Homo sapiens: one gene and its partner. The protein of the gene in region 1 interacts with the protein of each later gene in a biochemical or structural test. Each region holds a gene or a part of one and is shown in the gene's direction. Other genes may lie near its edges. The genes, in order: IHH and CDON.

The links.
Region 2: the proteins of IHH (region 1) and CDON are reported together in a solved structure, tested with the Homo sapiens proteins (one study listed by IntAct).

Annotation. Positions count from the first base shown.
Region 1 is NC_000002.12:219,057,855-219,065,019, reverse strand, and holds the start of IHH (indian hedgehog protein preproprotein), read left to right. Parts: upstream 1-4,098; 5' UTR 4,099-4,552; coding exon 4,553-4,867; intron 4,868-6,269; exon of another isoform or gene 6,270-6,332; intron 6,333-7,165. UniProt on the Homo sapiens protein: Plays a role in embryonic morphogenesis; it is involved in the regulation of endochondral skeleton formation, and the development of retinal pigment epithelium (RPE), photoreceptors and periocular tissues.
Region 2 is NC_000011.10:125,956,321-125,961,866, reverse strand, and holds the end of CDON (cell adhesion molecule-related/down-regulated by oncogenes isoform 2 precursor), read left to right. Parts: coding exon 1-143; coding exon of another isoform or gene 144-212; intron 213-761; coding exon 762-925; 3' UTR 926-5,046; downstream 5,047-5,546. UniProt on the Homo sapiens protein: Component of a cell-surface receptor complex that mediates cell-cell interactions between muscle precursor cells. Promotes differentiation of myogenic cells.

The DNA of each region.
Region 1 (7,165 bases):
CAGGCTAATCATTTCTTATTTCCATATTCTCCTAGACCAAATTCATCTAATCTGTTAGCCTATCTAGTTTATAATGCATTATTCTGTATTCATTTATGAGTAGCATTTGTGGCTTTGTAATTGTCTTTTATTTTCGTGATTTGTCTTTAAGGTTAAATAGTAAATTCCTCAAGGACAACTGTATCTTCTACTTTTCTGTTTGCATTCTGTGTTCTTATGTGCCTATTATACTACAGCATCAAGGTAGATATTCCCTAATAGAAAGAGATAGCGGCTGCTAATGACCACTGCTGTCTTGGGTCACCACACATGAGCCTCCTTATGTATTCCCCCTAGATGAGTAATAGGAATCAGAAAACTTGCTGCTGTCCCTAAGTGAACCCAGCAGAGGATAAAAGTGAATTATAAGTAACATTTGTACTTTAAAGCTTATATGTTTTAACCCTTTCAACAACTCTATGAGGTATGTGATATTATTTTCATGTTATAGATGAGAAAATGGAAGTTCAGAGTCATGTCTAAGGTCACACAGGTAGAAGGTAGCAAAGATGGTGTTCAGGCATGGGTTTGCCACCTCCAGGTCTACTGTTTCTACTGAGCCAGGGTTGCTGTGCACTGGGTCACTGGAGGGTGTTGGACTAACTGCATTCCTGAAACTTGTCTGGTTGTGGCTTACCACCCTTGGATTTAGAGCTGGATTGATCTGGTCAAGTGGCAGGATTAGGAGAAAAAATACTAGTTGACTATAGAAGTATGGACCTATGCAGTATGTATGTGGATGTGAAGATATGCTATAGAATATCATGTATATACTATAAGTACAATGTATTTCTACTATATAGTGTTAAATTAAGATTGACTAAAAATACTAACATGGTAGTCTACTAAGTAGATATTTAAATTATGTTCTATTATGTATTTCCCTCCATTTCTAACCTATTTTTTTAACTTTCACTTTTCTAAACAAAAAATTAATCATATTATCCAAAGCAATAGATAATTTGTTCTCTTCAAAATAGAGCTGATTGAAGGATAGAAGAGATCTAAAGGTGAAAGAAGAAAGTGATTTTACCAGCAGGCCCAGGAGGGTCGAGCCCAGTGAGGCTCGATCACTGCATCTCTCTCCTGATAATGAGGTCACATGTCCCAGGCTGTATGCCACTGGAGCTTCCATAGTGGCATACTCTGCCCCCGTCCAATTTTAATACTGCTGACAGAGGCTGGCAATGATCAGAAAAAGAACCAGGCCTTGTTTGATAGGTCTAAGGAGCTACTAGCCCAGTTTAAAAGCCACCCAACACCTACTGAACAGCTAAGAACATAGGCAGCCAAGAAATGACCCGGATACTGAGGCCCCAGGTTGGATTTAAAGTGCTCCAGGTCACTGCTGTAGAAATTATGGTGCTCCCAGTCTCCATCCTTCCTCCACTGAAGGAGGTTGGACTGATGTTGACCCAAATTTGAGATTCAGATCTTGGAGCACCATTATGTCCTGAGAAAAGAGTATAGCTTTGGAGTGCAAAAGCTCTGGGTTCAAATTTTAGCTCTGGGACCCCAGGCAAGTTACTTGGCATCTAGATCTTGGAGTTATAAATTTGTAAAATGAGAATAATGTCATGCACAGAGGATTATTGTGGAGATTTTACTAATTGTGTAAAGCACCTGGCAGAGAGAAAAGACTTGATACACGCTGGTCTCCCTCTGCTTCTCCAGCACACACCCTAATCACTGTTCCTAAATTAGCCTGGCAGAGGAGGGTCTGGTCTTGGTGAAGCCCAGTCTCAACCAACGAGGTGGCTCTGCTGCAGAGGCACACCTGATGGCAAGCTATGGGAGTACTTATAGCATAAAAACTTATTTGACATGGATCAGATCTTTACCAGATTTGTATTTAATAGGTTAGAATTACAGTCTGAGAGAGGAGAAATGAGAGGAAGAATGGAAAAGCTAATAAATGGTTATAAATTAGAACCTCTGAGAGAACTTAAAGAAATTGTCTTTTACTTGGAGAAAAGAAGATTGAAAGCAATTTAACAACTCTTCAAGACAATGCATGAAGGATAATCAGCAGGATAATGGCCCTAATCCCTAAGGCCAGAAAAAGAGGAACGAGTTGAATTTGCATTAGAGAGGGAGGGAGATAGATTAAATTTAAGGCGAAATTTCTCTAGAAGAATATTATTAAACAGTGGGATAGGTGACCGCAGAAGCCTATGGAATTTTCTTTCATGGAACTCCATAAAAACAGAGAGCCCCTGTTTGGTTTGTGAGAGGTACTGACCCTGTTCCAGAAATCTGAGGTAGAGGGGCAGGAGGGAAAGGGGATGGAGAATATCGCAGAGATAGTTCTTGAGCCCTGGAAAATACAAGTTAAAGCACTTGGAAGGCTTTCAGGGAAAAGAAGCAACATTCATCTTTGACTAGGAAACAGAATCTGAATGCTAATGCAAGAGAGAACATGCGGGGTGGGGAGAAGGTGCGGGCAAAGGGGAGGAAAGGAGGCGATCCATTTTGTTTCCACATTGCAGGCACCACTCCACTCCTAGTGGAGCAATCCTAAATTTCTTTCTGTGGGCCTCAGTTTCCTTTTCTGTAATATCAAGCGCTTAGATTAAGCACTCTCTTGAGTCTCATCCAATCCTGAATTTGTGTTTATAAAACCGATCCAGAGAGTGTGAGTAAATCTGTGAACAGCTACTTCAGCCCCGAACCCAGTGGTGTTGAGTGGACTGGTCCTGCACAGAGGGACAATGCACCTGCATGGGCAAAAACTGGGGCTGGGCCAGAGTCATGGGCTTCAATCCCTGCTTTTCAGCCACTAGCAAGTTGTTCATCTTCTCTGAACTTCAATATCTTCATTCGTAAAATGTGGACAGTAATAGCTCCTTTGGCCGTTTCGAGTTTAAATTAGATAATGCAAGTAGAAGACATAGTACAATAATATCTAATAACTACCATGTTCAGGAATATAAGTACCAATAAAATGGTACCTATTGTATTAATAGCATTTGAGTGAGAATTTTTAAGTCTTTTTATTTCTCATCTTTTCATTTCTACCTTTATTGGATTTGTAGAATCTATTACAGTCAAATCATATAGTTTGGTGTTGTGGTGGTGATGTTTTTTGTTTGCTTTTTAACACACTTGCCTTTACTTGTTTTGGCAGAAGGGATCCTAATTCATTCAGCTTTCTCGAATGTCATATAAAAACACATAACACATGTTCACGTTCCTAGTTGTTTCTACATATTCTCTGCTCTTTTAGATGTGTAATATAGAACCAAGTAATTATTTAGCAGTTCCGGTGGCTTTGCATCATTTTGGCATTCATACCAAGCCCCCGTTACTGAGATCTTTGCTGCCCCTCTTTAACATGGTCAGTCGGGGTTCCTCGGTATTCTGTTGACGTCACCATTTTAGCTACCCTTCTCTGCATATTGACCTATCCCTTTGCAACTTCATATTGTCACTTTCAACAGTGTTTCCAACTTAAAACCCCCTATTTGACTCTTCAAAAGGCTAGACTCCCCATCCCCAGTTTGACACCGACAGGCAGGCTGTGGGATGTGCACCAGGTTGATACAGAACCCAGCTCCACCAAGCTGAAAGGGCGCGTCGCCCGGGCCAGGGTGGGGCACCAGGTTATGAGTGGCCTCCTGCCTTTTGGGTTTGCTTCCCCGCAGGGGACACCGTAGGCGGCTGTGCGGTCCGGCCACTGCCCCCCGCCCCTCGCGTCCGGCCGCGCCGTGGGTTGCGGTCTCCGTGGGGGTGGCAGCTCCTGTCCGGGAGGTTTGCGCCTGGCGGGGCACCCCAGAGCCGCGAAGAGCCGGTAGGCGAGGCCAGGGCGGGGTGGGGCGCGTCCAGGCGGGGAGGGCAAACTCGGGCAGCGCAGGGGGCGCAGAGGGCAGCGGGCGGGCGGACGCGCGGCGGAGGCGCGAGCGGGACGAGGGCTGGCTAGTGCCGGGGCCGCCCGCCCGAGGGGGAGGAGGCTGTGCTGCCCTTGCTGCAGGTTCGCTGTCGAGCGCACAGGAGGCAGGGACATGGGTAGGGTGCGGTCTGCGCGGGGCCCGAGCCCGGATCTCTTCCATTTCCCCTCTCACTCGGCCCCGGGCTGCGCCGCAGACGGCAGCAGCTCCCGCTCCGCCCGAGCCGCCTGACCGCCGGGCCGGGGTGCTAACCGCGGGGCCCTGCAGCCCGCCGGCCCGGCCAGCCCAGCCCAGCCCGGCGGCCCGCAGCCCCGCCGCCCGCCGCCCCCCGCCGCCGCCGCGTTGCCAAAACAAACGGGCCGGCCTATTTATTGGCGGCCGGCGAGCCCGGCAGCTCAGAGTCGAGGCGCCGAGGGGGACAGCGCGCCGCCACCAGCTCGGGCCCTGGGCCCCCGCCCCGCACTTGAGTCCCGCCGGCCCTGGCCGCACCACGCCGCCCATGGCGCCCCCGCCTGGAGCCCCCCGGAGCCACCCGGACGCCTGAGCCCCCGCAGCGCTCCCGTCGACGCGCCTGCCCATCAGCCCACCAGGAGACCTCGCCCGCCGCTCCCCCGGGCTCCCCGGCCATGTCTCCCGCCCGGCTCCGGCCCCGACTGCACTTCTGCCTGGTCCTGTTGCTGCTGCTGGTGGTGCCGGCGGCATGGGGCTGCGGGCCGGGTCGGGTGGTGGGCAGCCGCCGGCGACCGCCACGCAAACTCGTGCCGCTCGCCTACAAGCAGTTCAGCCCCAATGTGCCCGAGAAGACCCTGGGCGCCAGCGGACGCTATGAAGGCAAGATCGCTCGCAGCTCCGAGCGCTTCAAGGAGCTCACCCCCAATTACAATCCAGACATCATCTTCAAGGACGAGGAGAACACAGGCGCCGACCGCCTCATGACCCAGGTGAGCGCGATCCGCCCTACCAGCGCGCCGCCACCGAAGCACGGCCACCTGCCCGGCCCTACCCACCCCCTGGCACATTTTCTCGACTGGCTGGCACGCTCCCTGGCACCTGCCCCTCTCGCCAAGCCCCGCTGCCTCCTGCCCAAGATGGGCTGGCCAGGGGTCCAGGCAGGAGTGTCGGCATCCCCAAGCCCGGAGGAGACTGCTAGAAGAGCTCCCCGCTGCCAAGCCCCACAGCCCAGCAGGTTGGCGGCGGCTCCTCTGCCCCAAAGTACTGGCAGCTCAGCCAGACGCTGCACCCGGAGGTACCTCTACCCGGCTGCCTCCTGCGCCTCCAGGACCCACGCAGTCCCTCCCGGCCTAACCTTCTGCACAGCTGTGCCCCTTTCATTTTGAAACTTTTCGGCACCCCTGAGGCAAAGAATCTCTGGGTGCGTAGGGTCACCACGGCCTTTCCTCCCTGTGCGCTCTTGGTTCTACGGGCTGCCCCTTCCAGGAGCAGCGTCCCGGCTGGGTCTGGGGTTAAGAACAGCGAGGAAGAGTTGAATCGGGAGGCGGAGGTGGGAAAAGGAACCTGCCCAGCGAGCCCACGTGTCTGTCCGGAGAGCTGAGGGGTGCTACTGCGGTGGAAGGGTGGGTTATTGGGGCCTTCGGGCTCTGGGACTGAGCTTAGGGGATTCCTGGGCTTGGTGGTGGGGACGGGAAGGAGTGGAAAAGAGGGGCTGAGATGCCGAGGGAGGCAGGGACCAGGGCTGACGCTAGTCTCTGCATGCTGGAGTAGGACCCGCGCTCCACCCAAGCTTAGAGGCGCAAATTCCTTCCCAGCAGCCAGGTCCGCGAGGGGAGAGACCTTCACCCCCTTCCTTCGGGGTCTCCCGAGGCTTCCCCCTGAAAGCAGGCCCCTGGCTTTCTAGATCCGTTGGGAAGAGCAGCTAGACTCAGGGCCCTCAGCATGCACCCTGGCGCCGGGGCTGGCCGGCCAGTGTCGGGGCCGAAGGTTGGCTGGTGGCCGGGCCGGGCCGGGCGCCGAGGAATGCAGATAAGGATCCGGGCCACGGGCTGGGCAATCATTGACAGCGCACGCCCGGGCTCTGGACCCGAGAGGGGGCGGTGGCAGTGAGGGAGAGAGGCGGGGAACCAGGGCTGCAGGCGGGCATAGGTGCGGGGCTAGAAGCCTGACGGCAGGGTCTACGAAGGAGCAAGCGGAGCTCCCTCCCTGGGCAGTAAGCACCCCCAGCCAGGCTGTGCACCAGCGAGGACCTGCGAGGCCCTGGGTTGTAGCTGCTATTGGCTCCTAGGAAGGCTGAGTCCAAGGGTCTGTGAGGCCCGGGCTCTGCAGGGTGGGGGTAGGTTGAGACTTGGGCTGCCCACACTTGTTGGCGCCTCGAATCTCAGAGTCTCAGAGTCGAGGACTGGTGGAAGGGCCTTTCCCCTCAGACCAAGGCCCTGGCCCCAGCTTCTTCTCAGAGTCAGCTGCACAGTCTCTTGGGCTCTCAGGACCCAGGCACACCAGGAGGCAGCAACCAAGGATGACCGCTTCGGTCCTTCCCCCAGGGCGCGGCTCTACCCCAACTCCACGTGAGGAGGATGGTGGAGCTGGCTCCCTGAGATCAGAAGCTTGGTTTATGGAGTTCCTTCCTACGGTATAGGGGCGGGGCACCGGTGCAGAGGTCCTGGAGGTCTGGGATTGTCAGCCCCTTTTGCGCCTTGCAGAGGAAGACGTTGCATGTGGCCCCCCATTGGGCGGCCCTGGCGCTAATCCGCCGGTTTCTGGTTCCCTGGCCCTGTCATCTCTGGCGGGGTTGTGGGCCGGTTTAAGATTATAAGAGGGTCCCGGCGGGAATCCTCGGTGGTGCTCGAGGGATCCAGGCAGGCCGGCGATTCCCCTCCAACACACCCCCTGAAGCTACCGAGACGCTCTGCACCTGCCGCGCCTCCAGAGCCTGTCGTCCCCAGGCCTCAGCCCTGAGGCTGCGGTGACACCTACTGGGCACCTCGGGCCTTGCACGCCTCGCAGGCCGGCCGCAGGCAGTCGGCTCTGCTGCCACTCCTCCCTCCCGGCCGCTGGCTGGCCCTCCTGCCTTGGAGGCACAGAGGGACCGGGCGCTGAAAGGTGTAGTCCTGTCTGTGGAGGGATGGATACCCGGAGCTGAAGACAGCACAGGAGAGAGGGGACCTCCACCTACCAGTGAAGGCGCCGCCAGGGCGCTTGCCTCCATGCCTCCTCCAGATTTGTGATACCGCCGTGCGGTCCAGATCCCCGGGGGCGGCTGTATGCTAGGGAGGGAGCACTTCAGG
Region 2 (5,546 bases), on another chromosome or scaffold:
CGCAGTCCCTGATTGTGGCCAGTTGCCGGAGGAGAGCGTCAAGGACAATGTGGAACCAGTCCCTACTCAGCGTACCTGCTGTCAGGACATTGTAAATGACGTCAGCTCTGATGGCTCAGAAGATCCAGCAGAGTTCAGCAGAGGTCAGGAAGGCATGATCAACCTTAGGATTCCAGATCATCTTCAGTTAGCTAAGAGCTGTGTATGGGAAGGTGATGCTTTCAGAGTTTCCCCTCTATGATTAGTTTACATATTTCTTGGGAGACTGGGTGGGGTGCTGGGTCCTTCAGGAAAAGATAGGACTCAAGATAAAGGATTCTTTGAAATTCTGTTATTACTCATGTCCTTCATCTCAGGCTGTCAATCCCATCACACTTTGGAAAATCTATTTGGAAATAGGCTTTGATTTCATTCGTAGGGTAGCAGAAGACTTGCTGGAAGAATGCATTTTGTGAACATGAGCCCCTTTTTGATTTGAGTTGGTTCTGGAGTTGTAACCTTTCTTTCAGGTGGTTATTTTAGGGCTTTTAAGGGGTTGCTTTACTTCTCAGGTGAATTGTATAGCTTCTCATGAGAGCTCAACTTTATTTTAAACCTTTTAAACCTTCTGTCGCCCTCAAATTCAAACCACACACAAACCAGGTTCTATTTATGCTCGTTTTTCTTTCTTCTTGGCTCAAAGTGTGAAGAAGTTTTTAGACTGCTTTGTAAAAATCAGCCTTTATCATTTGATAATGCTCCCAAACCCTGCTGTGTTTCAGGAGACAGCTGTGCCCATTCAGAAACAGAGATCAACATTGTAAGTTGGAATGCTCTTATTTTGCCACCTGTCCCCGAGGGCTGTGCTGAGAAGACAATGTGGTCTCCACCTGGCATTCCTTTAGACAGCCCGACAGAGGTCCTTCAGCAGCCCCGGGAAACCTGAGGACATGCAAACAACCAGTCATGTTCCAACTTCAAGCCGGTAACTGCACACAACAGGCCTGGGAGCGAACTGTGTGAAGGACCTTAATTCAAATCAGAGAAAATCATTATTTATTTTTTTGTAGTAGTAATGTCATATGAATGTATCTTAAAACGTGTGCCCTTTTATATTATTTATGCCTTAAATGTTTTCTTCCCCATTCCTTCCTCCCCCTCGGTAGGAAACAACCTTGTTTTGCATAGTATTCAGTCACCTGGAGGGCAGAGGGGTCCTTCCATGTTTTCTAACAGCTATAGTGACAGCAAGAGCTCCTCATGCAAAGGATCCCATCTCTTGGCTGCTTCGGCTAGGAGGGAATGCAGGGGCCCGTTGAAGGTTGCCACCAGCTGGGTTTTCAGGTGGAAAATGGTCTTTCAATAGTGTATTCTCAGACTTTTTTTTGTTTGTTTTTTGAGATGGAGTCTTGCTGTCATCCAGGCTGGAGTGCAATGGCTCGATCTTGGCTCACTGCAACCTCCGCCTCCCAGGTTCAAGCAATTCTCCCGCCTCAGCCTCCTGAGTAGCTGGGACTACAGGCACCTGCCACCACGTCCAGCTAATTGTCTTGTATTTTTATTAGAGACAAGGTTTCAGGCTGGTTTTGAACTCCTGACCTCAAGTGATCCACCCGCCTCCGCCTCCCAAAGTGCGAGGATTACAGGCGTGAGCCACCACGTCTGGCCTGTATTATCAGACTTCCTGAGAACACTTTGAAATCAACTGCAGTTGTGACCCATGTTTATAATAACAGACCTGGCTGACGGATTTTACAAGAGTGCCTTCCACAGAAGTGGTAATGTGACCTGTTGACTTTGTATCTGCACGTGGGCACGAGTGATGTTCAGTTTGCTAGGCACTAGTCATAGTGTTATGGACGTGGTGGAGTGTAAGGTCTTGATGAATTACGGCAGTATGCAGAAAAGGAACCAAGGCCAGAGAGACAAATAATGCCTCATGTCCCACTGCTTTAAAATTACATTAATTTATAAAATGGCCACTATGGGCTCTTTTTGACTGTTTCTCGGAGTAGGAACAAAATAAGACATTAAATGGTGGCTTGAAGAGAAAGATACACATTTTCAGAAGAAAGAAAGGGGAGGGCTGCAGGGAGCCTGTCTTGGCGGGAGCTCTCCAGTCTGTTGGATTAGCACAGGGACACGCTTATGGTGCCATGACGCCGAAACTAGTCATCCCCCATCTCCAGCATAGGCAACGGCCTGCAGGGGTGAGTGTCAGAAAAGACTTACTTTGGAAGAAAAGGGTTTTTTTTTGTTTGTTTGTTTTTTGTTTTTTTTTGTTTGTTTGTTTTGGGTTTTTTTCCTGAAATTTCCTGATACCTTTTTCAGAATGTCACCCTTGTAAATAGGCACCTAAAGCCAAGTTGGTCAGCAGAGCTCCTGACCACGGCTGCCTCTGCGTGACAAGGACATTTGCAGCTGCCTTTGGAAGGCTCTTCACATTAAAAAACAATAATTATGTAAGTGTGTTTCATAGCTTGAGTCAAGCTTTCAAGGATCACTGCTCCTTTGTGCATTGTGCATCCCTTTGGGGAAAGAAACAGAAAATTATTCTCTTTCTATAGAGTCAAGCAATTCCAGCAGAAGTGAAGAAATGTTAGTTTCCCAGAAATCGCAGTGGAATAGAATACAATACTGTGTTAACCAACTTTCTGTATAAATGCATCAGTATTCCCTTACATATGTCTATATATTTTATAATAGAACTGTTAGTGAAAATGTGCTTGTTTAAGCTGGGTCACTATGCAAGAGTTACTTCCAGTAGAATGTAGTGAATGTAATTCCCTAGTCGGATATTAGGGATGCTGTAGACCCAAGTTCTACATTCCAGATGTCCGTGCCTATAGTATACTGGATTTATTCTTCATGTTGCTTAAATGCAGTTAGCTCTGGAGGGGGATAGCTGCATCCCTTACTTCTGTGACTAGCAAAGGACAAAGTCCCAGCGCACAGAATATGAAAACATACCCTGTGTTAGCCAATCAAGTTACAGCAATGCTGTCACAAAGGGAGTTTTAGAAAACTGGGGAGTCATTGTCCGTAGACAGCCATTTTGATTTAGGAAACAGGTGTATTAGCATGAGCCTTAGGTCATGAACTGCTTTTAAAGATTGAGTTTGAATATGGGATCTGTCCACGAGGAAGAGAAAATGGCTTTACCTTTAGGACAATCTCATTGTGGACTGCTTTATTTATATTATTAGTAACGCTGTTTTAAGTGTTATTCTTTTTATTGTATTTTATTTATAAAAAATGCCTTTATATATTGAAATATATAAATATATATATATAAACACACACACACACACACACACACACATATATATATATATATATAATTGCCTTTATATTTAGGCGGTATGAGTTCTCCCTAAGCGTGAGTTGGCTCTGCCCTGCACAGGCACCCAAACAGTCCTACCTAATGTCACTTCACCAGGAAATGAGAGGACATGGTACAGTGTGGGAGACAGCACTAACACGTGCTGAATAACTACTGTGTACCAGGCACTGTGCTCGGTGCTTGTTACTGTTAACTCATTTAACCCCCACAACTCATCTACAAAGTTGGCATTAAAATCCCCAAGTCACTCAGTGAGCCATGGGACCTGAATCCGAACCTAGTTTATCTGGAGCCATAATCTGGGCTCCTCCCATTTTTCCATACTGCTTTCCAAAAGCATTGTGGTTCACTCTTTGGATGGAACCAGTCCCGTTCCGTATGCTGTGATCTATCCCTGCCGTGGAATTCCTCCGAGGCTCCAACTCCGCAGCCAGAGAAGCTGCTCTCTGGCCTCCGCGGGCAGAGCTCTGCTTATGACTTCGTCTTCCAGAGGTCCACATTTCTCCCCTTGACGCCCCCTGTCTACCACCTCCACCTGGAAATTTGATCTTTACTGTGCTCAGTGATCACGAAATTGGTCAAGCCTATTCATGTTCCTTCTCATCTAGAATTCTGTGTGATTGTTTTAGCATAAACTGCCCCGCTCCCACTGTATCATTTCACGATCTCCTTTTAATGTTTTTCTTTCAGTTTTGCACTGACAGTCTGGTGACAGGTGCTGCCAGGGTGCAAGTTACATTGCAATGTTCTAAACCTTTTGAAGTGTTCTTAGCAAAAGCCTTTCTTTCTGGGTGTTTTTGTCGAATGAGTCTATGAAGACTCAATGCATCCATCTTGGGCTGATCATGCCACAGATCTCATTCCAGCTATAGTACTGCCAAGAAGTGAAGTTTATCATTGAATTTTACCTGTGTTGCTCTCTTTTAAAGTAATGACTTTGAGATGCATGCTTTGTATCATATTGAAAAGTATGTTTTATTTTCCTTAAAGTTGTAATATTGTGTGTGAAACTGTACATATTTTAAATGATGTAGCTTTGGCAGGTTTTATTTGGTTGATATGATTTTATATTAAAAGAGAAGGCTGCTTTCATATAGCATAGCCCCTGAAGGTGGGAATACTCCCTGTTTGTACAACGCTGCTTATAGTTTGTGATTGGGGTGGGCGAATGTCTTCCTCTGAAATTCTTTGGAACCCCCCACCCCTGTCCTCCCCTGAAACTCCCCTGTGCACACCCCTCTGTTCTGACTGCAGAGATCAAGGCCCTGAAGGAGCAGGATCTTGGGCAAGTGTTTTAGGGGACGCTGAGAACATACCTGACCCTGGGGGCGATGTGGAGGCAGGCCCACCTCCTCGGGGCAACTTTGCGTTTCCTTGGAGGGAAGGGAGGTGGGTAGGAGAGGAGCTTGGGAGGATGAGGAGGAGCGGTCCCGCCTCACACATTGTCTATTTTTACCATTAACCGAGCGCCACATGTTTATGAACTTCAGGATAGAAATTTAGCCTCCTTGTGAAAACGTTTTGTTTTACTGCCCTAAGAAAATACACATCTCTAGGCTTGTCTGACCAGAAAGCCAGCAAAGTCTTTTGCATCGGGTGTGGCCCTTTTGTATTTTATTTCCCATATTTAAATAAGCCTTCCTTAAACCCTAGCCCCAGTCCTGAGAGCTTTGAGGGTAGCCGAAACCCCTTATCTAATAAAGTCTAACTCTGTGAGAACCACAGAATCTTCTTAAGCTTCTCAATTTTCTGTCTCCTTTCAGGCGCCACGTCCCTTGTGCTGGCGGGTCCCCCGTTGGCTTTCTTGCCGTTTCTTCTCATCTGTGTCTCCTGCAGAGGCGGCTCGGAGTCCCGAGTCTTCTAGTCAGTTGAACAAGCATTCATTTGTGTTTTCACCCAGATTACAGACACACACACAAACAGACACACACACTTGGAGCTAGTGAGTCATGCTGGCAGCTGACATTGTGACTCTGGAACAGCCCCGGTGCTCTGTGGGCCAGCTCCCCCAGCCTGGGGGCGGGAAGCTACATCTGCAGTACCTCTGCTCCGTATCTTGTGGGCTGCGACTCCTGGAGTCGGACCACTGCAGCGTCAGTGATGTTCGTAAGCTATGGTTGAGCAAAGGAACACACACCTACACACCTTGCTTCTTCCCACTAGCCAAACCTGGGACCCAGCCATCAGCCTGTCTCTGTGGGAGTCGCAATGGAAGTAGCCCTCT